Linked DNA regions of Homo sapiens: region 1 is linked to region 2. The links come from fine-mapping of genetic effects on gene expression. A gene starts in region 2. The other region holds a variant in brackets. All regions are shown on one strand. Distances are from middle to middle. Region 1 overlaps LINC01993 (long intergenic non-protein coding RNA 1993). Region 2 holds the start of SOCS3 (suppressor of cytokine signaling 3).

Region 1 (14,716 bases), 110 kb after region 2:
CCTGAGACTTCCCTGTCCTTTCCCACAAGGGCCCTGGCTCTGGTGGCTGCAGAAGTGGGAGGAGGGGATGTGGGGGAGTCTGGGGAAGGCCACCTTCCATGACGCTCTGCCAAGCCAGGAGGAGCGAAGGAATAACCTGGTCCCCGTGCTGGACCCTGGACTCCAGGAAGCAGAGCCCACAGCCGGCTCAGCCTTGGGTCCCCTGCCTCTGTGGAGCTGGCCCTACCCCAGATGGCCACTGTGCCTGAGGCCCGGCATCTGACCCTCTGTCCTCCCTGCCGAGGGGCCAGAACAGAGGCCCCGGCAACAGGCAAGGCGCAGTGCACGGAGCTGACCCCGTGCCTCGGTCCAGGCCTAGCAACAGGAAGTGAGAGGCCAATGCCGGTAAACGAGATCCGAAAGATTAGAGGCCTCGCTGCCGCCCCAAGTTAGAGGACAAGTTCCTGGAAGGAGGAGGAAGCTGCCGCAGTAAATAACGCCAGACCCCAGCGTCCCAGCTGTCAGCAGCCAGTGCGGCCGCAGGCTGGTAGGCCCAGGAGGGAGCAGGTGGGGGCAGAAGGCACAAGGGGGTGCCCTGGTCTCAGCCCAAGCTGGGGACACCTGGAAGGCAGTAGAGGGGTTCCTGAGGGTCCCCCCAGCCCAATCCCTAAGTCCCCATTCCCCTGTCCACACACACCACAGCTTGCAACCGTATCTAAAGACAGAAGCGGGGCCGGGTGCAGCGGCTCACACCTGTCATCCCAGCACTTTGAAAGGCCAAGGCGGGTGGATTACTTGAGAGCAGGAGTTCAAGACCAGCCTGGCCAACATGGTGAAATCCCCTCTCTATTAAACACAAAAATTAGCTGCGTGTGGTGGTCGGTGCCTGTAATCTCAGCTACTGGGGAGGCTGAGGCAGAGAATCGCTTGAACCTGGGAGGTGGAGGTTGCAGTGAGCTGAGATCGCACCACTGTACTCCAGCCTGGGCAACAGAGCATGACTCCATCTCAAAAAAAAAAAAAAAAAAAAAGAAGAAGAAAAAGAAAGAAAAGAAAAAGAAAAGCCAGCCAGCTGCAGTGGCTCATGCCTGTAATCCCAGCACTTTGGGAGGCCAAGTTGGGAGGACTGCTTGAGGACAAGAGTTTGAGACCAGCCTGGACAACATAGCAAGACCTCATGTCTGCAAATAAAATAAAATAGCCAGGCATGGTGGTATGTCCCTGCTACTCTGGAGGCTGAGGCCGGAGGACTGCTTGAGCCCAGGAGGTTGAGGCTACAGTGAGCTATGATCATACCACTGCACTCCAACCTGAGCAAAAGAGTCAGACCTTGTCTCAAACAATAACAACAAAAAAAGACAAACCACAGCACGGGGGAAATTTTTTTTTTTTTTTTTTTTTTTGACAGAGTCTCACTCTGTCACCCAGGCTGGAGTGCAGTAGCTCGATGTCAGCTCACTGCAGCCTCCACCTCCTGGGTTCAAGCAATTCTCCTGCCTCAGCCTCCCCAGTAGCTGGGATTACAGGCATGTGCCACCACGCCTGGCTAATTTCTGTATTTTGAGTAGAGACAGGGTTTCACCACGTTGGCCAGGCTGGTATCGAACTCCTGACCTCCAGTGATCCCCGTCCCTTGGCCTCCCAAAGTGCTGGGATTATAGGCGAGAGCCACCGCAGCTGTACTGTGGGGAAATTTTTTTTTTTTTTTTTTTGAGATGGAGTCTCGCACTGTTGCCCGGGCTGGAGCGCAATGGCTCGATCTCTGCTCACTGCAACCTCTGACTCTTGGGTTCATGTGATTCTCCTGCCTCAGTCTCCCAAGTAGCTGGGATTACAGGCACATACCACCATACCCAGATAATCTTTTGTATTTTTGGTAGATATGGGGTTTCACTATGTTGACCAGACTGGTCTCGAACTGCTGACCTTGTGATCCGCCCGCCTTGGACTCTCAAAGTGCTGGGATTGAAGGCATGAGCCACTGCACCCAGCCCTGGGGTGAAATCTTTGCAACGCACAGAACCCGCAAGGATCAGTATGCTTGCACATACCAACCAGCCTGACCAGTCAATGAGAAAAGACCAGAACATGCTCTTCACAAAGAGGAATTCAAACGGCTAAAACATAAGAAAAGGGGCTGGGCGCGGTGGCTCACGCCTGTAATCCCAGCACTTTGGGAGGCCAAGACGGGTGTATCACGAGGTCAGGAGATCGAGACCATCCTGGCTAACACGGTGAAACCCCGTCTCTACTAAAAATACAAGAAAAATTAGCCGGGCATGGTGGCGGGCGCCTGTGGTCCCAGCTACTCGGGAGGCTGAGGCAGGAGAATGGTGTGAACTTGGGAGGCGGAGCTTGCAGTGAGCCGAGATCGCGCCACTGCACTCCAGCCTGGGCGATAGAGCGAGACTCCGTCTCAAAAAATAAATAAATAAATAAATAAATAATAAAAGGTACTCTCCTTTAGCAGTTAACAGAAAGAGCAGGGCCCAGTGTGGTGGCTCATGCCTATAATCCCAGCACCTTGGGAGGCTGATGGGGGTGGATTGCTTAAGCCCAGGAGTTCAGGCTGCAATGAGCTATGATTGCACCACTGCACTGCAGCCTGGGTGACAGAGCAAGACTCAGTTTCTTCAAAAAAAAAAAAAAAAAAAAAAAAGAGGCCAGGCACGGTGGCTCATGCCTGTAATCCCACCACTTTGGAAGGCCGAGGCAGGCAGATCACCTGAGGTCAAGAGTTCAAGACCAGCCTGGCTAACATGGTGAAACCCCCATCTACTAAAAATACAAAAATTAACCAGGCGTGGTGGTGGGCACCTGTAATCCCAGCTACTCGGGAGGCTGAGGCAGGAGAATCGCTTGAACCCGGGAGACAGAGGTTGCAGTGAGCCGAGATTGCGTCACTGCACTCCAGCCTGGGTGACAGAGTGAGATTCCATCAAAGAAAAAAAAAAAAAAAAGATCAGATTAAAATTGCCAGGAGATATCACCACATATCACAAGGACAGCTAAGATGAAGAAGTCTGATAACACTAGTGTTACCGAGATGGAGAAGTGTGGGAAAGTGGGGGAGGAGGGCATTTCCAGCACTTTGGGAAAGGATTTGGCACACCTAGTAAAGCTGCAGATGAGAGACCCCAGAATCAGCAGCCCCACCGCCAGGCGTCCGCCCTCCCGAAGCAGGCACCTGTGCCCCAGCAGACAGGAATAAGAATGCCCACCAGCACCACCGTACATGGCCAGTCTGGAAACAAAATCCCAAATGTCCCTAAACAGGTAGAATGGAGAAATAAACTATGCTCTAGGGACCCAGTGGAAAAGTACCTGGCAGCAGAGAATAAATGACAGCCACAGCACGGGTGACTCTTGCAAACAGCCTAATGAAGCCAGACATAAAAGGAGACACCCTGATTCGACTTCTGTAAAGTTCACACACAGGCCACACTCAACACTCAACTGCTATTAAGGGATACATCTACGGTGGCAAAATCATAAAGAAAAGCAAGTCCTGGTCATAAAAGTCAGGCCAGGCCAGGCCTGGTGGCTCACATCTGTGATCCCAGAGATTTGGGAGGCAGAGGTGGGAGGACCGCTTGAGTCCAGGAGTTCGAAACCAGCCTGGGTAACATAGTTAGACTCCATCTCAAATCTGTCTATCTATCATCTATCTATCTATCTATCTATGTGTGTGTGTATATATATGTGTATATATATGTATACATATATGTGTATGTATATGTATATGTGTATATATATATGAAGAAGAATGTCAGGGCAGCAGTAACTTCTGCAGAGGGAAGGGTTGTAAATAGGAAGGAAGCTTCTGGAATCCTGGCCATGGTCTATTTCTTTTGTGTGTGTGTGTGTTTGTGTTTGTGTGTATGTGTGTGTGTGAGACACAGTCTTGCTCTGTCGCCCAGGCTGGAGTGCAATGGCACGATCTCGGCTCACTGCAACCTCTGCCTCCCGAGTTCAAGTGATTCTCCTGCCTCAGCCTCCCGAGTAGCTGGGATTCCAAGCGCCCACCACCATGCCTGGGTAATTTTTTGTATTTTTGGTAGAGACGGGGTTTCTCCATGTTGGCCAGGCTGGTCTCGAACTCCTGACTTCAGGTGATCCACCCGCCTTGGCCTCCCAAAGCCCTGGGGTTACAGGCGTGAGCCACCACGCCCCACCATGGACTATTTATTGGTCTGAGTGGCTATGGCACGGGAGTTTATTTTATATGTATTTATTCATAACACTGTACAAATATGCTTCATGAGCATTTCTGTATGCGTGGTAAATTTCTTAATTTTTTAAACAAGCAAGTGTATTTGAGCGCCCATTGTGTTGGGCACTGGGGATGGGCCATGCCGAGCTCCCGCTAGCCCACGGTGAGCTGATGGAGTGCAGGTGAACATCCTGTGGCTTCCTGTTGAAGTCATGCACAGGGTCTCCCCAGCTCTGTAGCCCCCCTGCTCTGCACCTGGCTGGGGAACAGCCCTCACGCCCCCCTCACTCCACCCCCCATTCTCTCCCGGTCTCGCACCCTCATGGCACCTCACTCTGGATTTCCGGAGATGGTGCTGAAGGCGAACCTGGAGAGGGACATCTTTCCCACTAGGGGGTCCCAGTTGGGGAAGTGCAGGGGCTTGGAGGAGCTCCCTCCCTTCCCCTTCCCACCCTCCCAACAGCACACATGACCTTGACACCCAGTGGCCCCCACGTGGGCCAAGTGCATGCCCACCATGGGCCCAGCCAGGCCCCCAGGCCCAGCGCCCTGTCCTTTGCCACCCAGTCCCCCAGGCTGGGAATGATGATGGCAGTGCCGACAACTCCCCTCTGGATCCCAAGCTATCGGGGCTGGGCTTAGGCTAGGGCGCTATAGATCCTGCAGGCTCAGGGCCAAGAGGATGGGATGGAAAGGACATTTCCCCCCCCCCACCCCCCCCACCTGTTTACCAGGACCCAGGGCCGCTATCTCCAGCTGCGATCTGCTGCCTCCCTTTATCTCAGCGGGGCCAGCCCTGGGTTCCCAGCAGCAGCCTCCCCGGCGCGCACTTCCTGCCAGCAGCCCAGCGTTACAGGAATCCGCACACTGAACTCAGCATGTGAGTGTGTGCCCACACCCCAGCGCCTGCGCCTGGGCGGGTGCCAGGGAGCCGGGGGCGCCGTGAAAGGCAGCCCACCTGGGGCTTATGTCGCAAGGCCCCCTCCAGCCAGCCCAGTGGCCTCCCACTGCTCAGGGGAGCCGCAAATCTCTCAAGAAGGCCAGGGAGGGGGCTGTCTTCAGGACCCCCAGACCTGACTCTGAGAGGCTGAGGCCAGGCCAGCCCCTGTTCCTCTGGAATCCTCGCCATGTCCTTCTGCACAGGGGTCTCACACCCTGGGGGGTGTGCACACTTCTGCCTGGGGGGTCCCAGGGGCAGGGGATGGCGAACCACATGTCCCTCCATTGTCAGTCACCTGGCTGGTGTTTACTGAGTCCTGTGGTCCTGGCACTGGGCTAGGCATGCAGGACACACCAAAGGAGGAGGGCGTCTGGGCCCTGCAGGCACAGGGCATCAGCCACACGGAGAAGTCAGAGGAGTAAACAGGCAGCTGTGACCCGTGCGCAGTGGGAAGAAAAGGTGCTATAGGCAGCACAGGAGGAGGGCTACCTCCATCCCCCACTGGGCTGGGCCAGGAGGGCTTCATGGAGAATGAGGCGTCTCAGCTAAGATCTGAAGACTTAGAAGGTGGTGACCAGGGATGCGTGCCGACGGTTGGGGGTTTTCCAGACAGAATGCAGGTGCAGAGGTCTCGGGGTGAAAGAGAGGCCAGCGCATTCGGGAACAGAAGTGTTGCAAGCCAGAGTGTGGGGCGGGGAGGCGTCTGGGAGGCAGAAGGGCTGGAT[C/T]CCACAGAGGCCAGGGAGGAAGCCCCGCCGAGGGGCCCCACTGCACCCACGGACAGAGGAGCTCAGAAGTTTGGGAAGGGCTGGGCTGCAGGGGTCAGTCCTGGGGGGCAGGGGCTCAGGAGAGAAGGGAGCAGCTGGCATGTGGGGGTGGGGCCAGCCTGCGTTGGGGCAGGAGATGACCCCAGGACCTCCAGTGATGGTGACCCTTCTAGTGAGAATGTCAAGAAGAACTGCAGAGAGGGGAGGGAAGAGGGTCAGTGCTGGGACAGGGGTGGGGGCAAGTAGAGTTGGCTCCACAGAGGGCTTTGGGCTTCTCATCCCAGCCTGGGAACTGCGGCCCGTCCCCAGCTTACCAGCAAGACAACTCAGATCTCAGTTGCAGCCAGGGTCACACACACACACGTGCGCACACACACATGCACACACACACACACACCCATGTACACACGCATGCACACACACACATGTAGGAGCCCAGACAACCCCCCAGAGGCCAAGCTGGGGTCATGGGGTCCACCTGCCACAGGCCTCACTGCACCTTTCCGTGTGAGAGCCCACCCTTCTTGCTCCTCCACACTGTCAGACCCCACTGGGACAAGGCAGGGCTGGCCCAGGTGACCCGGGGACTAGATAGGAGGACCCAGAAGAAGGAAACTGTTCTGCCCCAGGTTCCCCCAGGGAGAGGCCACCTATCTGGGGAGACAGCTCTGATTTGGGAGAAAGGGAGAAAGGCCCTGTTGGGTGACCAGCTGTGCCTCTCGGGCAGGGTCCTCGGGCCTCTGTGACCCCAGCCTCCCTGCCCATCCTTCCACTGCAAAGCCGCTGGGACCATTGGCAGGGAAGCTGCAGAGGGCAGGCTTTGCAGACTGCGAAGCTTGGCAAACAGGAGGCCATTCTGTGATTCTGCCATAGCTCGAGGGGCCGGGGGTCCATTTGTTTGTCCCCCTTCTCCCCTGAGCGCTGCTATCCCTGCCCCCAGTCCCTGCCCCGCCAGACCACCTCCTTTCCTTCCCACAGAGGCCTCCGTTCCCCGCCCCCTACTTCCCAGCAGAAGGTCTGGAGCCAGACAATGAGATAAGGGGCTTGTTTTCTAAGGGCAGGAATTTGGTGCAGATTGTGGGTCAGGCCCAGAAGGGCTCTGGGGAGGGGAAGGCAGCAAGCCTGTCCATCACATGGGTGTCCTTGGGACCACTGACCCTGCGGGTACTTACAATTCCCACCAAGCTGAAGGAAGAGAGATGGAGAGCCCCTGAGAGGTCATCAGGCCCCGGATGTAGCTTTTGGGCTCCATCCCCACCCCTGCTCACTTCCCCAGCCACGCTGGCCCTCAGGGCCACAAACGCAGCAGCTCCTCTCTACCCAGAGGCTTCACCCCTGCTATCCCTCTGTCCAAAGTCGGCTCCATCTTCGAAGCTCAGCCTAATCACTGCTTCCTCCAAAAAGCCTGCCCTGCTGCCTGGACTGGGACTGTTAGAGCTGCTTCCTCGCTGCCATCCTCTCACGGCCAGCATCTTGTCCCCCACCCCTGGGACCTGAGCTCTGGAGGGCAGGCCACCTCTGCTCGCCCTAAGTCCCCAGGCCTGACCTGGAGCTGGCCTGTGGTAAAGGCCTGGCCATGACTGATCTAGGATGGGTGTCCTCCTCACCAAGGGCCACCCTCACCAGACGCTTGGCCCAGCAGCTGTGGCCCCTCCTGGATCTTTCTCCTATGGGGGACAGAAAGAGGAAGAGGAGCCGCTGAGTGGCAATGGGTGCCTGTGCTCCCTGTGTGGGGGAAGGGCACCCCACAGTCTAGACTGTGTCAGAGTTCACCCCAAAGCCCCCGGGCCCTCAGAGTTCCAAGCTGGGATCAGTAACGACAATGATAATAACAGCCACAGCTGGGCAGGTCGTGATGGCTCACGCCTGTAATCCCAGCACTTTGTGGGGCTGAGGGAGAATCACTTGGGCTCAGGAGCTTGAGACCAGCCTGAGCAACACAGCAAGACCTTGTCTCTACGAAAAACACAGAAAGATTAGCCAGGCATAGTAGCACTTGCCTGTAGTCCCAACTACTTGGGAGGCTGAGGTGGGAGGTTCACCCAAGCCCAGGAAGTCAAGAATGCACTGAGCTGTAATCACACCACTGCACTCCAGCTTGGGGGATAGAGTGAGACCCTGTCTTAAAAAATTAAAAAACAGCCACAGTGGGGTGACCACCCTGAGCTTACAGCAAGCCAGGCATTGGGGTCAGCACCAAACACATATCCAGTCACTGAATGCTCACAACAGCCCAATCTGCAGTTGAGGAAACCGAGGCACAAAGAAGCTACATGGCTTGTCCAAGGCCACACAGCTGGCTTGAACTTCAGCACCACCCTGCCCCCATGGAGGCAGTCCACCCAGGGGCAGGGGCCTATGGAGGAGGGGCTCCCCACGCATTCTTTTAGCGGTCTCCCCTTAGACTGGAACCCGGCTGGAGACATAGCCCTGTCCCCCAGCCTGGCACCTGGACACCTGGACACTGCCTGGCGCACCGAACTTGCTCAACAAATCAATACTGAAGATGGTAAACGAGGGAAGCTGTGTTTTAGGGGCAGCATGAAACAGTGATTTAGGGCTGCCCTCTGGAGACAGCGGTACCCCGCCCGGACCAATTCCTACCCAAGTGGCCTCCAGCTGTCCGTTAGCTCCGCGTCTCCTGTTCCCCATCTGCAAGACAGGGATAGCAATAGTGCTTGTCTCCTAGAGTCGTTGGGAGGTTTAACTGAGCTAACATTTGCAAAGGGCCTGGGGCAGAGCCTGGCACATGGCAAGTGCCACATGAGCGTCTGTGTTATAAAAGCTCGCCCAGGGCTGGGTGCAGTGGCTCACGCCTGTAATCCCAGCAATTTGGGAGGTCAAGTCGGGTGGATCACCTGAGGTCAAGAGTTCGAGACCAGCCAGGCCAACATGGTGAAAACTCCTCTCTACTAAAAATACAAAAAAAAAAAAAAATTAGCTGGGCGTGGTGGCGCGCGCCTGTAATCCCAGCTACTCGGGAGGCTGAGACAGGAGAATTGCTTGTACCTGTGAGGCGGAGGTTGCAGTGAGTCAAGATCGCGTCACTGCACTCCAGCCTGGGCGACAAAGCGAGACTCTGTCACACACACACACACACACACACACACACACACACACACACACACTCGCTCGGCCTCGGTTTCTCCTTCAATGAGCAGAACCTTCTGCTTCAGCATCACGGGCTCGCTGGTTCTCCGCCGCGACGCAGCCCGTACTACAACTCCCAGCGTGCCACGGGGCCCGTTCGCAGACGCTCGCGCACGCCCGCCGCGAGGGAGCGCGAACTACAACTCCCAGCGTGCCACGGGGCTCGCTCCCTGGACCCCCGGCCCAGGGCGGCTGCTTCCCAGCTCTAGGAATTCTGGCCGCACCGACCACGTCGCTCTCGCCGCCTTCGCTGGGGAGTAGAGGAGTCAGCAGCTCCCGCCGGGGTGGGGAGTCGGGCGCTGCCCGCGCCATGCTCCGCAGACTGGCCCGAGCGGCGGCCCCGGTACATGGGGCGCTCCGGGCGGGGTGTGGGAGCGCGGGGGTCGCAGCCTACGTGGTGGGCCTGCGCAGCGACAAGGTGACCAGGCCCGGGCCGGCCATGAGGTGCGTCATGGCCGAGGCGGTCGTGGGGGACGACGACTACGGCGAAGACCGGCGTGCAGGCCGGGGGTCGTGGAGGCGGCAGCGGAGCGCTGTCCGTGATGGTCTGGGACGCAGGGGAAGTGGCTCCCTTGGCGCTTAAAACCCATTTATGCCTAGTGTTCCATTATTGGAACGCTAAGCATCTGGGAGGTATTTATGTCCTACTGCTCAAGGTCATCGCCAAGGTCTGATGGCAAAAATTCAAAAAATTGCAACCTCCGACATAAATGGGTGTAATGAACACCTGCCACAGGATAGGCTTGCCGTCTGCGTGCGTGCTGCTGTTACCTGAAAGTTAGAAATGCAGATTCCGGCCGGGCGCAGTGGCTCAAGCCTGTAATCCTAGCATTTTGAGAGGCCAAGGCAGGCGGATCACGAGGTCAGGAGTTCGAGACCAGCCTGGCCAACATGATGAAACCCCATCTCTACTAAAAATACAAAAATTATCTGGGCGTGGTGGTGGGCACCCGTAATCCCAGCTTCTCAGGAGGCTGAGGCAGGAGAATCACTTGAACCCGGGAGGCAGAGGTTGCAGTGAGCTGAGATCGTCCCACTGCATTCCAGCCTGGGCGACAAGAGCGAGACTCCATCTCAAAAAAAAAAAAATAAAAATAAAAATAAATAAATAAAAGAAATGCAGATTCACATGGCCTGCCGAGAAGAACCTGCATTTCTATAGGCTCACCAGGTGGTTGTGTGTGTCCTGCATTGTCACCCAGCTGCCCCCTGAGATGGGTGATGTCCAGTCTTGCAGAGGAGGGTTCTGAGATGTGGAGGGAGGCGCTCCAGGCCCCATACTTAGTAAATGGCAGAACCAAGGTTTGAACCCGGGTCTTCTGACTCTGAAACCCACAACTGTTCTCCTGCACTGCCTTCCCCCACAGAAGGCAAATGGAAAATAGATGTAGAAAGGGGCAGGTTCTACAGGCTGCACCTCGCAAGGAGTGGGTTCTAATAACCTAGGGAGTGTCTCCAGGGTACAGCGACCCCCAGCCCCAGCCCTGGGTTGTGAGTTGCCATAGTGAACCACTTTGACTGTTGGGGTGTGCACACCCCTCAGCTAGGCCAGGACAAGCCATGGGGTCACCAGTTGAATCCCGAGGGCCCGTCTGCTAAGGGGTTAAGGGATGGCTGGGGCTAAGCATGTATCCAGCTGCTGCCCAGCGTTGCTGGAGATGCTGATCTCCATGCTCCCAGGCAGCCTCACATGTCAACAAGTCACTGCCGCTCAAGGAGAGGCTGGGGAGGCGCTTGAGTTGATGGGAGTCTAGAGAGGGTGCCCTGGGAAGCAGAGGATGGGGCGAGGCTGTGGCTCACGGGGAAGGGGGCTTCACAGAGGAGCCCTCCTGCAGGCTGAGTGGAAGCATCCCAGGCAGGGAAGGGAGCGCCGGCTCACAGGGCAGGGGTCTTCAGGAGCAGAAGCAGACTGGTGAGAAAGGTCTTCAGGGCGCAGGTGGGGATGTGGCAGGTGTGGAGAGTGCAGGAGGCTCTGAGGAGGGGGGGCAGAGGCCAGGTCACTCCAGCCCTGAGTGTCATGCTAAGGACTTGATGCCACAGTTGGGGGGACCACAGTGGGCTTTACAGCAAGAGCGGGAGCCTTCCTCACCCTCCAGCTGCACCCTCACACCCCGTCCAGCCCCCCACTCATCCCTCCTGACGAGGAAAGGAAGTCAGCAGAGAAACCACAGGCCCCACCTGCAAAGGGCTGAGGGGAAAGGAAGTGAGACAGGTGTGAGGTCTGCCGGGGACAGGTTCAAACCACAAGAGAGGTTCTTGGGGGGAGCGGGGAGAGGCCATGGCCCAGGGTAGGTGGGGTGCAGAGTTGACTGAGGGCCCTGTGGGGCTGGATGTGTGGTTGCTAAGCCCACAGAGTGTGCAGCTGGTGGATGGGGCTCCAAACCCACTCAGCTGCTCACCGGAGCCTCGGGCTAGGGGCCTCACCTGGGCTCAGGGCGTGCTCTGGCCCAAGTGACACAGGGAAAGCAGCATGGACGGTGCTGACACCCGAGTGTGCAAGCACAGCGGCTTCCCTGTCCCTCCGCAGAGCTGCAAGAAATGGCTGTGGAGCTGCTAGGGCTGGGGCGCACCCTCTTTGTGCCCTCCAACACTATGGCCAACCTCATCTCTGGTGAGCGCAGGGCGACTTCTGTCTGCCTAGCAGGTCCTCAGTGCATATGGGGGGGCTCTGACACTCATGGACCACATTCCTCCATTTCTGTTGGGTTGGTGGGGAGCCCTGGAAGGAGATGGGGGAGGAGGACAGTGGGGGCTGCAGGTCTGCTCCTCCCTAGCTCCTCTTCCGAGGGTCCCCAGGGCCTCTGGGCCAGCGTCAGGGACCTCTCCACATAGCCCTGGCTCCGGGTTCCTGCAGCCACACCTTCCTCTCACCCCTCAGGCCTGTTCTCCGGGCTTCCCTGCTCCTGCCTCCCCTCTATAAACCGTCCCATGATTAAACACTGCCAGTTTCCCAGTGTGTGTGTGCCGTCTGTTTCCTGCCAGGGTCTGACGACTGCAGGTGCCTCGGCTGCGTGTCCACCAAGAAGCAGCATTGCAGCAGCTTCTCCAGCAGGCGATGCTCTGTGGAGGGGCCTCCAGGCGCAGGTGTGCAGGCTGGGTGTGGCCCAGCGATTCCCAGCGCAGCACAGCTATCCTAGACTTGTGTGTTTAATGGGATGGTCTTCTGGCACGTAGCACTGAGGTGTCTTGAAGGTGCTGTTTCCTTGCCGGCCTCAGGCATTTGTGAGTTGACTGTAGCCTTAGGGCTCAGCCTAGCCACGCTGAGCAGGGCCACATGCCTCCAGACTCAATGCCAAGACCTGCCCTCCTTCTGTCTCAGTGATGTGTCACTGCTGGCGCCGGGGCTCCCAGCTCCTCCTTGGGCAGGAGTGCCACCTCCACGTCTATGAGCAGGGTGGGGTGGCTCAGGTAAGGAGCAGGCATTGCTCACCTGGGGCCCTGGGCATCCTCCAGCCAGCACAGGCTGCTCAGGGGCAAACCCCCTTCCCAGGCACCAGGCTGGGACCTGCGGAGGGGAGAAAGGGACAGCCATGGAGAAGCTGGCTGGGATGGCAGCCTCTCCAGGGGAGGAAGGAAGGAGAGCAGAGCCCCAGATTTGCCACGTGGGGGCGGCAGCGGCTGGGGCTGGCCCCAGGCTTGCCGGGCAGACACCTGGGCGGTGCTTGGTGCCTGGTGCCCTCTAGTGGACACTCGGAGCACTCCCGCGCTCCCGACGGGAGCCAGACAGCAGCATCTGAAGAGTTAATAGGGGAGGGGCCCAGTGCCCCCCAGCTGGGACGTCTGTCTAGATGCACAGAACAGAGGAAAGGCTCCAAGGCCCAGGCCTCGGGGGAGCAGACACAGGACTCAGGGTCTGGCTCCTTACTCCAGAGGAGCCCCCCACTCCGCCAAGAGGTGCCCCTGGACCCCTCAGCCCTCATCCTCTTCCTGACCCACAGAGGGCTGGAGTGCACTCCCACTCCCTCCCAGAGCTGCCCCACTGCACTCTGGACTGGCTGAGCTGGAGAGGATGATCACGCGGGGCCTCCAGAGTCCCTACCACCAGGTCTGCGAGCTCATTTGCCTGGAGAACTCACACAGCATCTCGGGGGTCCGGATCCTCCCCATCAACTACCTACGCCAGGTAGGCCCAGCCCCACCACTGTGTGCCCCCCACCAGCCTGATCCTGGCTTCCTGTGCCCCTGGCCCATCCTGGGGTTCAGTCCCCTCTGATTTATGCCATGGGCACCCATCAGCGGCCAGACCTGTCACAGGAAGGACACATGTGTGGTCCTAGGCTGAGACACAAAGGGAATTATTACCCCAGGTCAGGGCCCCTAGTCCCTGCACCAGCCCAACAGCAGAGATGCCCCCACCCCCAAGTCCCCAGAGCTGAGTCCCAGAGCAGCACCAGGACCTGCTGCCCTGGCGCAGAAACGTGTGCCCCATGAGGCTGCAGGAACAAGCTCGTGTGAGTGCCCTCCACCTGGTCCTTGCCACCCACGTGCGAGGTGAGGAGGCCGCAGTGTCTGAGCTCTGCTGTTTACCAGACACTAGTTAGGCAGCAGCCTAACTCTCCAAGCCTTGCGTTCCTTGCCTGTGAAATGGGAGCAGCGGCGTCTCCCTCGAGTTGTTGTGCAGCCTAAATGAGGTGACACACATTTACCCTTGGCCCACGGTCGTTTGGCCCATGCTCAGTGTGCGACAAAGCTGGGTTAAATGTGCACCCCCAGATCCTCCCAGAGCCCAGCATGGAGGCTTAGGCAGCACAGCCTGACTGCTTGGGTCCCAGATCACCAGAGCCAGTCACCAGCCAGGTCTCCTGATCCCTCCTGATTCCTCAGGCAGCTAAGCCCAGGACCCTCCTCCCTCTATGCCTCCCTCAGGCCTGGCCCCTCTGACTCTGCCTGCACCTCACCCCCAGGTGCACCTCCTGGCCCAGACCTATGGGGCCTGGGTCCACCTGGACAGGGCCCAGCTGATGAACGTGGTGCTGGCCCTGCATGTCCCGCCCACCTACATTGTGGAGCACTGTGACTCTGTGTCTTTCTGCCTCTCCAAGGTGGGAAAGCCCTGGGCTGGCCTCCCACAGACAGGTGGGGTGGGGCGCCCCAGCAGGAGGCAGGGTTGGATTCCTGAGCTCCATCCCTGGCAGCTGGCCCCAGGTTCCCCTTTAACACCTCTGCAGATGGGGCTACGCATCTGTCCCCACCCTGGCCCAAGGACAGGGATGTGAGCTGGCAGGAGTCTCTCCTCTCCACCTCCCAGGGCCTGGGCGCCCCAGTGGGGTCCCTGGCTGGGAGGCCCAAGGACTTCATTGAAGAAGCCTGGCGCCTCCAAAAAGCCCTGGGTGGAAGCATGCACCAGGTGGGGATGCTGGCTGCGGTGGCCCTGGTGGGACTGGTTGACACAAAGCAGGCACTGTGGCAAGACCATGGGAACGCCCAGAGATTCACCCAAGGTGCCTGGACAGGACGCCCCACCCTCGCTTCCCTGTGCTTCCTCTGACTTGGCCTGAGCTGTGCCGTCGGGGGTCCCCCAGCAGGCCTGCAGGCTTCTGGATCCTGGGACTCAGGGTGGCCATTGAGTCACTAGGGCGGGACCCAGGGCACCAGCTGCTTCAGCAGACCCTACTCAGCGCAGAGTCCAGCCTGGGGAAGCCCTCGGTGGACGGCCAGGATTGTGATGCT
Region 2 (14,716 bases):
CAGCCGTGCACATGCCACCACTCTGCATCTTTTTTTTTTTTTTTTGGCTGCTTCTTGCAGAGCAGGGCTAATTCATAGGCATTGTGCCCACAGTAGCCTGCATCTTCTGGTCTATAAAAAAGAAAAGAAAAAAAAATGCCCCAGGTGGCACAGGAAGCCAGGGAATAGGAGGGGAAGACTCTGGCTCACCTGATTGCACCTTTTGAATGCTGACCTATGGGGCTGTCTTAGGTATTCACAAACTATGTTTTCAATTTGCAAAGTTCCACAAATGCCTGAACCACCTCCCACAGGTAGAATTAAATGGGTTCTTTTCTCTCTTTTTTTTTTTTTTTTTTTTTTGAGACAGTCTCACTCTGTCCCCCAGGCTGGAATGCAGTGGCACTATCTCAGCTCCGCTGCAGCCTCTGTCTCCCCGATTCAAGAGATTCTTCCACCTCAGCCTCCTGAGTAGCTGGGACTACAGGTGCGCGCCACCACTCCCGGCTAATTTTTGTATTTTTAGTAGAGAAGGGGTCTCACCATGTTGGCCAGGCTGGTCTTAAACTCCTGACCTCACGTGATCCACCTGCCTCGGCCTTTCAAAGTGCTGGGATTACAGGCGTGAGGCACTCCTCCTGGCGAAGTGGGGTCTTCTTAGCTCAGCTCACAGCCACTTCAGCTTGAGCTGGAAGCAGGGGGCTAAGGCCTTTGGGGAGTGAGAGGGAGAGTGAAGTAGAAGTGAATGGGAAAAGACAGTGGGCAGCAGAGGCCCGGGCATGTGGCACCAGGAGAATGCCTGTCCCACCAGCAGGCCCTCCCTGCCTCTGCCAGCTCTCCATCCTCCCCTCCCCTGTGTATGCCACCGAGTGGCCTGGAGGGAGGCCAGACGAGCCTGTGTGTGGGGAAAGCCTGGGAGTCTAGTCAACCAACCTGGGCACCAGCTGGAGCTCTGCCACGATCTGACTGGGAGACCTCGCACCAGGCAGGGACCTCTCTAGACCTCAGCTTCCCATCAGCCTACGTGTGTTACTTCTTCAGGGAATCCCCCTTGGTTGTCCCCCCAATAGATTAGGTCTCCCCATAATAGGCTCACATAGCTCCTGGGACTTCTTCATAGTATGCAGCACAGTCAAAATTAATCAATCCCGATATAATTCTGGAAGAATCTTGTCCTTCTGGAAAAACATCTAAGCTCCATGAGATCCGAGACTGATAAATTTCTGGCACCTAACTCAATCCCTGACACATAGCAGGTGCTCAATAAATATCTACTCAAGGCCAGGTGTAGTGGCTCATGCCTGTAATCCCAGCACTTTGGGAGGCTGAGGTGGATGGATCAGAAGGTCAGGAGGCTAGCCAATATGGTGAAACCCCGTCTCTACTAAAAAATACAAAAATTAGCCGGGCGTGGTGGCAGACGCCTGTAGTCCCAGCTACTCAGGAGGCTGAGGCAGGAGAATCACTTGAACCGGGAGGCAGAGGTTGCAGTGAGCCAAGATTGTGCCACTGCACTCCAGCCTGGGCGACAGAGCAAGACTCTGTCTCAAATAAATAAATAAATAAATAACTACTCAAGGAATAAATGGTAGTATAAAATAAGTGTTATGGCTGGGCACAGTGGCTCACGCCTGTGATCCCAGCATTTTGGGAGAGCGAGGCCAGTGGATTGCCTGAGCTCAGGAGTTCGAGACAAGTCTGGGCAACATGGCAAACACCGTCTCTACCTAAAAATACAAAAAATTAACCAGGCGTGGTGGTGTGCACCTGTAATCCCAGCTACTCAGCAGGCTGAGGCAGAAGAATCGCTTGAACCCCAGAGGCAAAGGTTGCAGTGAGCTGAGATTGCGCCCCTGCACTCCAGCCTGGGCAACAGATTGATACTGTGTCAAACAAAAAACAAGTGTTGCAGGGGCAAGAAGTGACTCCAGGCAGGTCCTGCAGCCCCCAGGGGCCTGACCCTCCACCAGCATTTTGTTTGCAATTATCGGGGGAGTGGCTGTTGGGGGAGTATGAAACCTGGGAAGGGGCAGTTCACATGCTCCAGGTTAAGAAACTCTGAACAACACCAGCCTAAGGCCCAGTGAGTACAGTGCCGGCAAGGGGGAGGGAGGAAGGAACACGTGGGGATAGCTGCCCCAGTTTCACCTTAGACGCCTTAGAGTCTCACCTTCTTGTCCTTGGTGGAGGCTCCAACCCCACTTCTTCTAGCCCACTTCTCTGCCTTCAAAGTTGGTTCAGGATCTTGGGAGCCAGAGAGAGGGTATTATTTTCTTTTTTTCTTTTGCTTTTACATTTTTCTTTTTTTTGAGACGGAGTTTTGCTCTTGTCGCCCAGGCTGGAGCGCAATGGCACAATCTCAGCTCACTGTAAATCTCCACCTCCCAGTTTGAAGCGATTCTCCTGCCTCAGTCTCCTGAGGGGCTAGGATTACAGGCATGCGCCACTGCGCCCAGCTAATTTTGTATTTTTAGTAGAGACAGGGTTTCACCATGTTGGCCAGGCTGGTCTGGAACTCCTGACCTCAGGTGATCCACCAGCCTTGGCCTCCCAAAGTGCTGGGATTACGGGCGTGAGCCACCACACCCAGCCTATCATTTTCTATTTGAACTTGCCCAAGAATCAGTGCACGGCACAGTGCATACCAGGGGTGCTTCACACTGCGGAGGAGGCAGGGACTTCCCAGAGGGTGAGAGGCTCAGAAGGAAGCCTGCGCCCGGGCTGCAGGAGCTTGACCAGAGGCTGCAGGCACACCATGGTCATGAGGAGCACCTGCCCCAGAGCCCCAGGAGAGTCAGGGCACCTGACCGTGACCACTTGGCTCCAGCAGCCAGCCCAACTGCAGTATTGCAGGGCGAGCCGAACAGCTGCACTCAGCTGGTCCCCCACCAGCTCCTGCCTCTCCAAGGGCGCCTGGGCCCAGGACATCCCAAGAGGCACGTCTCCCAGAGACAGCATGGCCTCCTCGCCCCCTCCCGGGCTCTCCCCGTCCTGGGCACTGCCTCGTCTGCATTGCCGCCCAGATGGTTCACCACAGCCTCACTTCCCAGAACTGCCCTGCTGCCCTGATGTCTGTTCCCGCAGCTGCTTCAGGGCAAATAAAAACTCTTCCCACCCCAGCCTCGGACAGAGCAGCATTTGTCGGTTTGGGGTCAGAGGAGATATTGGCTAGGAGCTAACTCCTCACTCCCCACCCTCCAACTCCAAACTTGTAGCAGATGTGGATTCCTTTTTGACAAAGTGGGAAGAAACTTTCCTCCTCTTCTCACTGCGCCCCCAACATTTCATCCTCTCTGCACCCTCCTAGAGTCACCCCCCACTTACCCACTCTCACCCTCTCAACACTTCCCAGGGCCCCTCTGTGGGTGGAGGAATGGGCCCCCCAGGGCAGGGGTCCTGGCACTCCGGCCCAGCCCAATCCCCAGAGGGAACGAGGAATCCGAGAAGGCGGGCAGTGGGTAGGTGGGTGGGTCCCTCAAGTGTTTTCTTTCCCCTCCCCTCCTCGAAGTTTTTCTGGGAAATGCCAGAGGCCGGCTGGGCCTGGAATGTCAGGCTTGAAAGAACTCCTCCACTGCCTCTTAGACATCGGAGCCACAAACCTTTTTATTAGCTCCGGGGGCCCTCCTGGCGGGAACAAAGGCCTGCAAACAGGAATGCCATTGTCCCTGCCTCCCTTGGCCCGCCCCTATGCGAAGCAGGAAAGAGAGGGCTCGGGGTCAACCTGGTCTGAGACCTGTGAACTCTTCCCCTGCTCCGGAAAGGTCATCTGGGCCATAGTCCTGCAGGCTGCAAGGTTAGTCCCACGGGCCATCCCAGTGGGTAAGAAAAGAAGCCAGGGCTGCAGCCGAGGAGGGCTGGGGTGCGGCAGAGCTGAGCACCCCAGGTAGCCCAGCCCTAGGTTCCAGGCCTCAGCCCTGGGAGAGCCACACTGGAGCAGCAGGCAGGGCTTCCAGGAGGTCAGATGAGAGACAGGTCCCCCACCATCTCCTCCAAATTGGCCAAGAGAAAGGGGGACAGAAAAGAAGAGGCCTCCCTGCCTCCTCCCCTTGCCTCTAGACACCAACGCCGGACCTGAAGCTCTAGAAGGGAGGGAAGCTGATTGATTTCCCCACCGTGTATCCCCAGGTGTGGCAGGCTAGCTCACAGGCAGAAGACGCACAGTCAACGGCAGGCACTGGGCAGTCCAGCCCCAGCTGCCTCCTTGCGCTGTAGAATGCCCAGCAGTGTTAAAGACGGGGAGGCCTTGGGTTTGGCATTTAGCAACGCTGTGGTCTGAGGCCGGCATCCCGACCCGTCTACTGCAGATGCAGCCACCAACAATGGCAACCTCAGCATCCGCCCCCGGGTCGGCGAGCCTGTGTTCACCAAGCCATGCCACGGCTTCCCGCGACCACCCCGCGGCGCCAGGTTTCCTTCCCATCCATGAGATTTGGGGAAGGGCTCAGCATCTGTCACACACCATGAGTAAGTGGAGCCCTACAGGCAGCTGAAACCACTGTGTACTTCCCCTCCATCATGAATGAATATCTTTATTATCTTTATGACCAAGCACCTTTGCCTGGAAATGGGATTGTGACTTCGCAGAAATTCTGCAAAGGGAGAGATTAGGAAAAGGCAAAAGTCTCCTAAATCCCTTAGACGGGAAATCAGGAGGGCAGAGCAGAGGGGCCAGATCTCCCCTCGACCCCCCCAGCAGAGGGAAGATAAGAGCAAGCAAGCCTGCGACTCTCTGGCTCTGGCTTCTCTCAGCCGGGGTCCCTGCCTGGAAGCAGCTCTGGAGCGTACCCTGTAAAGGCCCAGGTGTCTCCACCCACATTTTCAGAAACGTTTTCGTCTTCATTCCTTTGTCTTCAGATTAACAGGCCTCTAATCTCCAGCGAGCCATGGATGGGGCTTCCCAGCACTCACACCCTCTATCCCATCTGTATAGCTCCTGAGCCCTGCATGGAAAACCAAAAAGTACTCTAGAAGAAAGCAGGTTGTGGTCTCTAAAAACAATGGAAAGAAGTCAACATCATCCTTGACTTAGAGATTCATTCTACGTACCAGGTTCCAGTCTTAAAAAGAAAAAAAAATCAAATATAGTCTGTTTCCCCAAGATCCTCACTGGAGATATAGTCAGAACATTTTGGTTAATGCAAAAAGAGCTACCTGGAAGTTTAGAGTGTCTGCCTTTTTCCGTCTTTTTTTTGGAGACAGAGTCTCACTCTGTCTTCCAGGCTGGAATGCTGCGGCACAATCATAGCTCACCGCAGGCTCTACCTGCTGGGCTCAAGCGATCCTCCCACCTCAGCCTCCTGAGTAGCTGGGACCACAGGCGCGCACCACCATGCCCGGCTAATTTTTAAAATTTTTTGTAGAGATGGAGTCTCCACTATGTTGCCCAAGCTGGTCTCAAACTCCTGAGCTCAAGCAATCCTCCCACCTCGGCCTCCCAAAGTGCTGGGATTACTGGCACGTGCCACCACGCCCAGCCCGTCTGCCAAATTTTAAAGGAAAAGTAGAAATCAGCCAAGGTGTGGAAGGTAGTTCCCTCCTTGTCCCCAGACAGGGAAGCAAATGTGCAGAAACCCAGGACTGAGGAACGTTACCTTCTGGACAGCTTGGAGCTCCATGTAGCTAGAGCACGAGGCACCAGTCGCTGAGGCAGTGGCAGCCGATGAAACTGACATGGAGCAGCGTGGGACACACACTGCACCGAGGAGTCTGGATTCATCCAGAAAGTGATGGGAAACCATGGGAGAGATTAGAATGCCAAAGGGAAGGCCAGGCACGATGGCTCATGCCCGTAATCCCAGCACTTTGGGAGGCCAAGGCAGGCGGATCACCTGAGGTCAGGAGTTCGAGACCAGCCTGGCCAACATAGCGAAACCCTGTCTCTACTAAAAATACAAAAAAATTAGCCAGGCATGGTGGCACATGCCTGTAATCCCAAGTACTCGGGAGACTGAGGCAAGAGAATCACTTAAACCTGGGAGGCGGAGGTTGCAGTGAGCCGAGATGGCACCACTGCACTCCAGCCTGGGTGACAGGTGGGACTCCGTCTCAAAAAAAAAAAAAAGAAGCTTGGTGGCTGGCTGACCTGTTTCAAGACAAGCAGCTTTTTGGAATGTATCTTCCATAGGAGATGTACGGTTCCCCAAAACAAGGCAGCTTACATCCATAGCCAACCCTATGAGCCCAAGCTGCAGCAGCTCAGCTCACTCCTCCCTCTCCTCAAAGCCTCCCCAGTGCTTTCAAAATCATGACAGTTAATATGCATTGAGCACTTCCTATGTGCAAGGCACCACTCTAAGCATTTTGCATGTGGGAGCTCCAGACAACTCAGTGAGGTAGGTACTACTCTCCAACCATTTTACAAATAAGGAAACCGAGGCACAGCTGGTAAGGCAGATTGCCTAAAGTCACACAGCTACTGGGTGATAGAGCCCGAACAGCAGTTGGATCTCCTGCTGAGATGAGCAGGCAGGGAGCCCCGCACCTCCCACCTCACTCATCACCTGGGGGCTCCATGCCGATTGCCTTGGCCATCTCCCCCTGCAGGATTCACCCAGCACTTCTGTCTTCCAGCACTTCGCCCTGTGCCTGGCAAAAGCAGGCTCTCGGCAGAGGTTTATGGAATGGATGAATGAACTTGACTTGTGTCAGAGCATTGTAATTTACAAAGCACTTTCTCATCCATTACCTCAAGGGCTATTCCTTGAGTCTTCTTTGTCTTCCACTGGGCTCTACCCAGAAGTGTATGGTCATGCAGCCACGTAACACTGAATGGATGAGAAAAAGAATGAACTGATTACAGAGAGAAGGAGAATCCATTTCATTACCCTGCAAGCATTGTGAGGGCAAAGACCAGGTCCTACTCATCATTATATATCAATGCCCAGCCCAGTGCCTGGTGCATGGAGCTCAATATTTGTGAAATGTGTTGAATAAACCAGTTTCCTCCTCTGCTCTCCTGATAGGCTGGAGGGAGAGTTGAACTAACTGGGTTACTTCTATTTCTATCACGCTTTGATGTGCAGAATCTTTTTTTTTTTTTAATTTCAAATCTCTTATGGCAAAAGGTTCTTTTTCTTTCTTCCTTTTCTTTTCTTTCTTTCTTTCTTTTTTTTTTTTTTTTTTTTTTTGAGACAGAGCTCTGTCGCCAGGTTGGAGTGCAATGGCGCGATCTCGGCTCACCACAACCTCTGACTCCCTGGTTCAAGCGATTCTCCTGCCTCAGCCTCTCAAGTAGCTGGGATTACAAGCATGTGCCACCACACTCAGCTAATTTTTGTATTTTTAGTAGAGACGAGGTTTCACCATGTTGGCCAGGATGGTCTCGATCTCCTGACCTCGTGATCCACCCGCCTCAGCCTCCCAAAGTGCTGGGATTACAGGCATGAGCCACCATGCCCGGCCCTTTTTATTTCATTTTATTATTATTTTTTTTAACAGGGTCTCACTCTGTTGCCCAGACTAAAGTGCAGTGGCACGATCATGGCTCACCGCAGCCTTGACCTCCCTGACTCAAGCGATCCTTCCACCTTGGCCTCCCAAGCAGCTGGGACTACAGGCACAGGCCACCACTCCTGGCTAACTTTTTTCTATTTTTTGCAGAGATGGGGGTGCTCACTTTGCTGCCCAGGCTGGTCTTGAATGTCCATGCTCAAGTGATCCTCTCGCCTCCGCCTGCCAAAGGGAAGGAAAAGGTTCTGGCTCCAGTTTTACAGGTGGCAAAACGGAAGCCCAGAGAAACTGTGTGTCTTGTCCAAATCTCACTGAGTCCCCAGCACATGCTGGGGAGAGGTGATGGCACGGACTGAGGATACAGTGGCAAAGGCAGTGCGCACCTATCAATTCCAGGGCCGGCAAAAGGGCCAGTTCTGGGTTCTGGCATCCCAAGCTCCCTGTCCCTGGCGGCAGTCTCTTCCTTCCCTTTCAGCACCTCATTATCCTGGTATCTAGGAAGAGCGCAGGGCCCCAGGCCCACAGCGTCTGCATCCCGAGAGGTGAAAATCTAAATGCCACTGAGGCAGCTCTCGGGTGTCCCCAGCACCACACAGCCCATTTGGGGACAAGATGACAAAACTTGCCATCCTTCATAAGGCTGGCCCCGGGTCTCCAAGCCCAAACTATCTACGTCAGTGCCAACGTGACCAGCAGCAAACCAATCTTTCACCTCAATCACTTCCTCTCCTCCCCTCTACCCCCTCCCCGCCAGTGATCAAGTCCTCCCCCACCCCAAGAGAGGCAGGGGGTCACATTCCAGGGGGTGTGGGCCATCTGGCAGTAGCCTGAACCCCGGAAAACTGCTTTCCGGAAATTCTCTCCTGCTAGAATTTTATTCCCAGGTCTGACCCCAGCCTGGGGTGTGAATGCCCCCTTCTCGGCCACCTTTCCAGCTCCGGAGACAGCCATTCCCGCAGATCCCTGGCGTGCCTATTCCAAGGCCTGGGCCGCGCAGCACCAAACTGCCCTCCCCTAGGAGACCCCAGGGCGCCCTCTGGCGGACGCGGGCCGTAGGTTGGGGCCATCGTTCCACCTCGAGCTCTCCAGCCCGGCCGAGAGCACCTGGCCCAACCCACACCGGACCAACCAGGTTTGCAGACCCCAGTGCATGAAAGCGTTTTCATAGGGGAGGGGAGGGGGGCTCCACACTCGCGTCAGGGTTGGCAAAGAACCTGGCAGTGGGCCGAGGCTGGGTAGCTGCCACGAAGGGGCGTCCCCTGCAGCCCTGGGTCTCCCCTCTGGAATCTGCCCGCAGGTGACTGTCGCACGTCTCCAACCTCCGGCTCCCGGGTCTGACCCCAGCCCCGCTGCCTGGCTGTGGGGTAGCCCCACTTCCCTTTCGGCTGGCCCGGGCCGCCTGACCCGCAGTTGGGCCCTCGGGGAGGCCCGGGTGGCGGCGAGGGGGTGTCCCCGCGGGGTCCGGGAAAAGGGGAAGGGGAACCGGGAGGCTCTCCAGGTCGGCCTCCTAGAACTGCCCGCTCTCCCGAAGCGGCGCCCCCGCCTCTGCCAGAAATCAGCCTTCTTAGAAGGGAGGGGGGTGGGGGGAAAGTGTGAATGAGAAGTTGGGGGCGGAGCGCGCGGCGGGGAGGGGCCGCTGCCAGGAACGCGCCGCCGGGGCTGGCGCCGCGCCCACCGGCCGCCTCGGCCGCCTCTCGTCGCGCTTTGTCTCCGCGCGCGTCCCTCCCGGTCCCTGCCCCTGCTCGCGGCCCGCCCTCGGCGCCCGCGGCCCCTCCCTCACCCTCCGCGCTCAGCCTTTCTCTGCTGCGAGTAGTGACTAAACATTACAAGAAGGCCGGCCGCGCAGTTCCAGGAATCGGGGGGCGGGGCGCGGCGGCCGCCTATATACCCGCGAGCGCGGCCTCCGCGGCGGCTCCGACTTGGACTCCCTGCTCCGCTGCTGCCGCTTCGGCCCCGCACGCAGCCAGCCGCCAGCCGCCCGCCCGGCCCAGCTCCCGCCGCGGCCCCTTGCCGCGGTCCCTCTCCTGGTCCCCTCCCGGTTGGTCCGGGGGTGCGCAGGGGGCAGGGCGGGCGCCCAGGGGAAGCTCGAGGGACGCGCGCGCGAAGGCTCCTTTGTGGACTTCACGGCCGCCAACATCTGGGCGCAGCGCGGGCCACCGCTGGCCGTCTCGCCGCCGCGTCGCCTTGGGGACCCGAGGGGGCTCAGCCCCAAGGACGGAGACTTCGATTCGGGACCAGGTAGGAAGGAGGAGCGCGGCGTGGGGAGGGGTCTCGCTCAGTCCCGGGAGCTTTTCCCGGTTTCCCCTCCCCTTCCCGGGTCATTCCCGGCAGGGAGGTGACGAGGTAGGGGCAGAGCGGATGGAAGCCGGAGATCCCAGGTTCCCGGAATACTCCGGCTGGGGCCTTCGGGCTTCTCCTGTCCCCTCCCTACCCCCGTGCCTCGGGTTTCTCCCTCCGTCCACACCGCCCGGGGCTACTGGACTGAGCGGCGCCCAGGCAGTCCCGGGGGCCCTTCTCCTGCTCCCCACCCGGCCACACTCCTGGAGACCTAACTTCCGCGCGCGAGTTTCCCACGCTGCGCCCTTGCAGTGCGCGCCTGGGAAGGGGCTGCCCGGGGCCACCCTGCCGGCAGGGGCGGGAGCCGTGCGGGCTCCGTGAGGCGCCTGGATCGGAGCGCGGGCCCAGGAGAGGGCCCCCGGGGCAGTGGGTGCCCCAGTCGCTCGGCGAAGGCAGGGGAGCCGGGGCGGGCCGGGCGCGCTGGAGGGTTCCGGGCACTCAACGCGCTCGCGCCTTCCTCTCCGCAGCCCCCCGGGATGCGGTAGCGGCCGCTGTGCGGAGGCCGCGAAGCAGCTGCAGCCGCCGCCGCGCAGATCCACGCTGGCTCCGTGCGCCATGGTCACCCACAGCAAGTTTCCCGCCGCCGGGATGAGCCGCCCCCTGGACACCAGCCTGCGCCTCAAGACCTTCAGCTCCAAGAGCGAGTACCAGCTGGTGGTGAACGCAGTGCGCAAGCTGCAGGAGAGCGGCTTCTACTGGAGCGCAGTGACCGGCGGCGAGGCGAACCTGCTGCTCAGTGCCGAGCCCGCCGGCACCTTTCTGATCCGCGACAGCTCGGACCAGCGCCACTTCTTCACGCTCAGCGTCAAGACCCAGTCTGGGACCAAGAACCTGCGCATCCAGTGTGAGGGGGGCAGCTTCTCTCTGCAGAGCGATCCCCGGAGCACGCAGCCCGTGCCCCGCTTCGACTGCGTGCTCAAGCTGGTGCACCACTACATGCCGCCCCCTGGAGCCCCCTCCTTCCCCTCGCCACCTACTGAACCCTCCTCCGAGGTGCCCGAGCAGCCGTCTGCCCAGCCACTCCCTGGGAGTCCCCCCAGAAGAGCCTATTACATCTACTCCGGGGGCGAGAAGATCCCCCTGGTGTTGAGCCGGCCCCTCTCCTCCAACGTGGCCACTCTTCAGCATCTCTGTCGGAAGACCGTCAACGGCCACCTGGACTCCTATGAGAAAGTCACCCAGCTGCCGGGGCCCATTCGGGAGTTCCTGGACCAGTACGATGCCCCGCTTTAAGGGGTAAAGGGCGCAAAGGGCATGGGTCGGGAGAGGGGACGCAGGCCCCTCTCCTCCGTGGCACATGGCACAAGCACAAGAAGCCAACCAGGAGAGAGTCCTGTAGCTCTGGGGGGAAAGAGGGCGGACAGGCCCCTCCCTCTGCCCTCTCCCTGCAGAATGTGGCAGGCGGACCTGGAATGTGTTGGAGGGAAGGGGGAGTACCACCTGAGTCTCCAGCTTCTCCGGAGGAGCCAGCTGTCCTGGTGGGACGATAGCAACCACAAGTGGATTCTCCTTCAATTCCTCAGCTTCCCCTCTGCCTCCAAACAGGGGACACTTCGGGAATGCTGAACTAATGAGAACTGCCAGGGAATCTTCAAACTTTCCAACGGAACTTGTTTGCTCTTTGATTTGGTTTAAACCTGAGCTGGTTGTGGAGCCTGGGAAAGGTGGAAGAGAGAGAGGTCCTGAGGGCCCCAGGGCTGCGGGCTGGCGAAGGAAATGGTCACACCCCCCGCCCACCCCAGGCGAGGATCCTGGTGACATGCTCCTCTCCCTGGCTCCGGGGAGAAGGGCTTGGGGTGACCTGAAGGGAACCATCCTGGTACCCCACATCCTCTCCTCCGGGACAGTCACCGAAAACACAGGTTCCAAAGTCTACCTGGTGCCTGAGAGCCCAGGGCCCTTCCTCCGTTTTAAGGGGGAAGCAACATTTGGAGGGGATGGATGGGCTGGTCAGCTGGTCTCCTTTTCCTACTCATACTATACCTTCCTGTACCTGGGTGGATGGAGCGGGAGGATGGAGGAGACGGGACATCTTTCACCTCAGGCTCCTGGTAGAGAAGACAGGGGATTCTACTCTGTGCCTCCTGACTATGTCTGGCTAAGAGATTCGCCTTAAATGCTCCCTGTCCCATGGAGAGGGACCCAGCATAGGAAAGCCACATACTCAGCCTGGATGGGTGGAGAGGCTGAGGGACTCACTGGAGGGCACCAAGCCAGCCCACAGCCAGGGAAGTGGGGAGGGGGGGCGGAAACCCATGCCTCCCAGCTGAGCACTGGGAATGTCAGCCCAGTAAGTATTGGCCAGTCAGGCGCCTCGTGGTCAGAGCAGAGCCACCAGGTCCCACTGCCCCGAGCCCTGCACAGCCCTCCCTCCTGCCTGGGTGGGGGAGGCTGGAGGTCATTGGAGAGGCTGGACTGCTGCCACCCCGGGTGCTCCCGCTCTGCCATAGCACTGATCAGTGACAATTTACAGGAATGTAGCAGCGATGGAATTACCTGGAACAGTTTTTTGTTTTTGTTTTTGTTTTTGTTTTTGTGGGGGGGGGCAACTAAACAAACACAAAGTATTCTGTGTCAGGTATTGGGCTGGACAGGGCAGTTGTGTGTTGGGGTGGTTTTTTTCTCTATTTTTTTGTTTGTTTCTTGTTTTTTAATAATGTTTACAATCTGCCTCAATCACTCTGTCTTTTATAAAGATTCCACCTCCAGTCCTCTCTCCTCCCCCCTACTCAGGCCCTTGAGGCTATTAGGAGATGCTTGAAGAACTCAACAAAATCCCAATCCAAGTCAAACTTTGCACATATTTATATTTATATTCAGAAAAGAAACATTTCAGTAATTTATAATAAAGAGCACTATTTTTTAATGAAAAACATGACTTGAGCCTTTTCTGCACCCCTGCCCCCCCGCCCCCCGCCCCGTGCCTTGCTTTCTCTTTCACCCACACCCACACTCTGCATCGGAGAGGAGGAAGAGAGCCGCAGAGGGTGGAATCGAATACGTCTCAGCCTTACGTCAGCACGCCTGCCTCGTGTGTCACTGACAAGCTAAGGCAGCCACCTAGACTTACCGAGAGGGGTAATTCCTGCAAGTCTGATTCAGATCTGACCAGAATATGCAAAGCAAGTTCGAAGGAAGCGCTTCAAAGGGCTTGCAGGGAGCAAGCTGAGCTGTGGTCAAAGCTTTTAGAGGCTCCAGGCTATTAGAGGCGCTCTGGTTCCTTGGCAGGGAGTCGTTCCGAGAAAGCCCAGACATGGGGTCCTAGTGGTGACCTATGACCTCAGTCTAGCCAGGTTCACTGGAAGTGGGGGGAGGGGTGGTCCTGAAGCAAATCTTGCATGCAGGTGGAGCCCCACCCCCTCCCCCACCACAGGACCCCAGGCATTCAGGGGCTTCCTGGCCACTGCTCCCCATGCCTGCTTCCCTTCCCCGTTCCTAGGGGCCCCAACCTGAGCAGCGGACAGGATCACCCTCCTCCCAAAAAGCACCCATCTATTCATCTCTCTCTTTTTTTGAAACAGGGTTCGCTATGTTGCCCAGGCTGGTCTCCAGCTCCCGGGCTGAAGGTATCCTCCCCTCAGCCCATCTATTTTTAGTCACTCTCATTTAAACACTAAGGGGCACTTAGAGGTTACCTGGATTAAGCATCCCACCTGCTCCCACAAGGCAGGCATTCTCATCCCCATGTTCTCAGACATGGCCACGTGCCCCATGTGAGCCAGGACTTGGACTGGTCACTTCTGGTGCCTAGATTGGTGCTCAGTAAATATTTGTCAACTAAGTAGGGGCAGCAACTCAGGTTCAGGGAGGTTAAGCAACCTGGCCAAGGGCACACCACTTGGGAATATGGGGAAAACAGGATTGGAACCCAGGAGCATTTGATTTCCAAAGCCCATGCCTCTCTGCCTCTCTATACACTCAGCATATACCTGCCCCCGGAGTGAGTCCCTCCTTAAAAGCCAAGAGGTTAGTACCCTTCCCCCCAACTCTGGGGTTTCAGCACTAGGGTTCTTCTAATAGCAAAAAACGTCTTCTCTCCTGTAATCCAGCACTTTGGGAGGTCGAGGTGGGCTAAGGGCTGGAGCCCAGAAGTTCAAGACCAGCCTGGGCAATATAGCGAGACCCTGTCTCCATTTAAAAAACAGAAACCAAAAACAAAAACAAAACCACCTTCTCTGAGGTATTCTCCTTTCATGCCTCCTTCTCTGATCCCCGTGACCTGACAGCTGGGAAATGAGTGTTAACCCCAAGTCAGGGGCCCTTATCTCTCTCAGATGACACAAATACCAGAGCCTCTTCCTGGCCCCCTTGCACCCAATATACTGCTCCAGGAATCGGGGTCCAAAAGGCAACAGAGAGTAAATAAACAAAGTCGTTTTTCTTTCCTATTTCCTGGGACTTTTGGAGAAAATGACCTGAAGTGACGAGAAGGGGCCAGGCCAGGCACGAGGCGGCTGAGGGGACAGAGCATATGGGAGCCACACCACAGGCATCATGAAGGAACTCCAGACTGGCAATGTAAACCCAGGTAGGGCCACCTTCCCAAAGCACAAGTGCAGGTGAGGGGGCCCAGTGGGGTGTGGCTCCCCAGTGCCTTCCAGAAGGATGATGAGTCTTCCTCGCCCTGGGGTCTGCTGGTCAGCCACCACTGCCTTCAGCTGCACAGAGTTCCCCTTTCACTGGAATAACAGCCATGAGGGAACCGTGAACCTGGGGTCCTTGTACTTTTTTGTTTTTTGAGACAGGGTCTCACTCTGTCACCCAGGTTGGAGTGCAGTGGCGCTATTATAGCTCACTGCAGGTTTGAACTCCCGGGTTTGGGTAAACCTCCCACGTCTGGGTAATCCTCCCACGTCAGCCTCCTGAGTAGCTGGGACTACAGGCACATTATCACCACGGCCAGTTATTTTTAATTTTTAATTTTTTTTTTGTATATTTCGTAGAGACAGGG

What was found.
Region 1: its variant is fine-mapped to the expression of SOCS3 in whole blood (INTERVAL, PIP 0.99).

The regions. Positions count from the first base shown.
Region 1 is chr17:78,249,057-78,263,772 of GRCh38, reverse strand. It overlaps LINC01993 (long intergenic non-protein coding RNA 1993), which reads left to right. Exons shown (of 7, transcript NR_073178.1): 6 at 1-526; 7 at 1,860-2,424. LOC105371910 (a long non-coding RNA gene) reads right to left here. Exons shown (of 2, transcript NR_164160.1): 2 at 11,282-12,551. It also overlaps the pseudogene THA1P. Among named protein-coding and RNA genes, the nearest start is that of LINC01993, 22 kb to the left of the region's middle. RefSeq lists enhancers at 4,528-4,697, 4,243-5,107, 5,430-5,749, 5,760-5,809, 9,114-9,383 and 4 more, silencers at 4,970-5,019, 9,414-9,563 and cis regulatory regions at 4,670-5,258, 6,758-7,216. The variant C/T (reference allele first, on the strand shown) is at 5,858.
Region 2 is chr17:78,354,700-78,369,415 of GRCh38, reverse strand. SOCS3 (suppressor of cytokine signaling 3) reads left to right here and starts at 9,339. Exons shown (of 2, transcript NM_003955.5): 1 at 9,339-9,666; 2 at 10,233-12,638. The coding sequence starts at 10,321. The coding sequence ends at 10,998. SOCS3-DT (SOCS3 divergent transcript) reads right to left here and starts at 8,968. Exons shown (of 5, transcript NR_110847.1): 1 at 8,643-8,968; 2 at 6,665-6,743; 3 at 2,150-2,223; 4 at 523-688. RefSeq lists enhancers at 3,001-3,090, 5,400-5,977, 9,335-9,983, 11,930-12,579, 12,637-13,136 and 4 more and silencers at 8,438-8,487, 8,718-8,917, 8,978-9,287, 9,298-9,577, 9,988-10,227 and 1 more.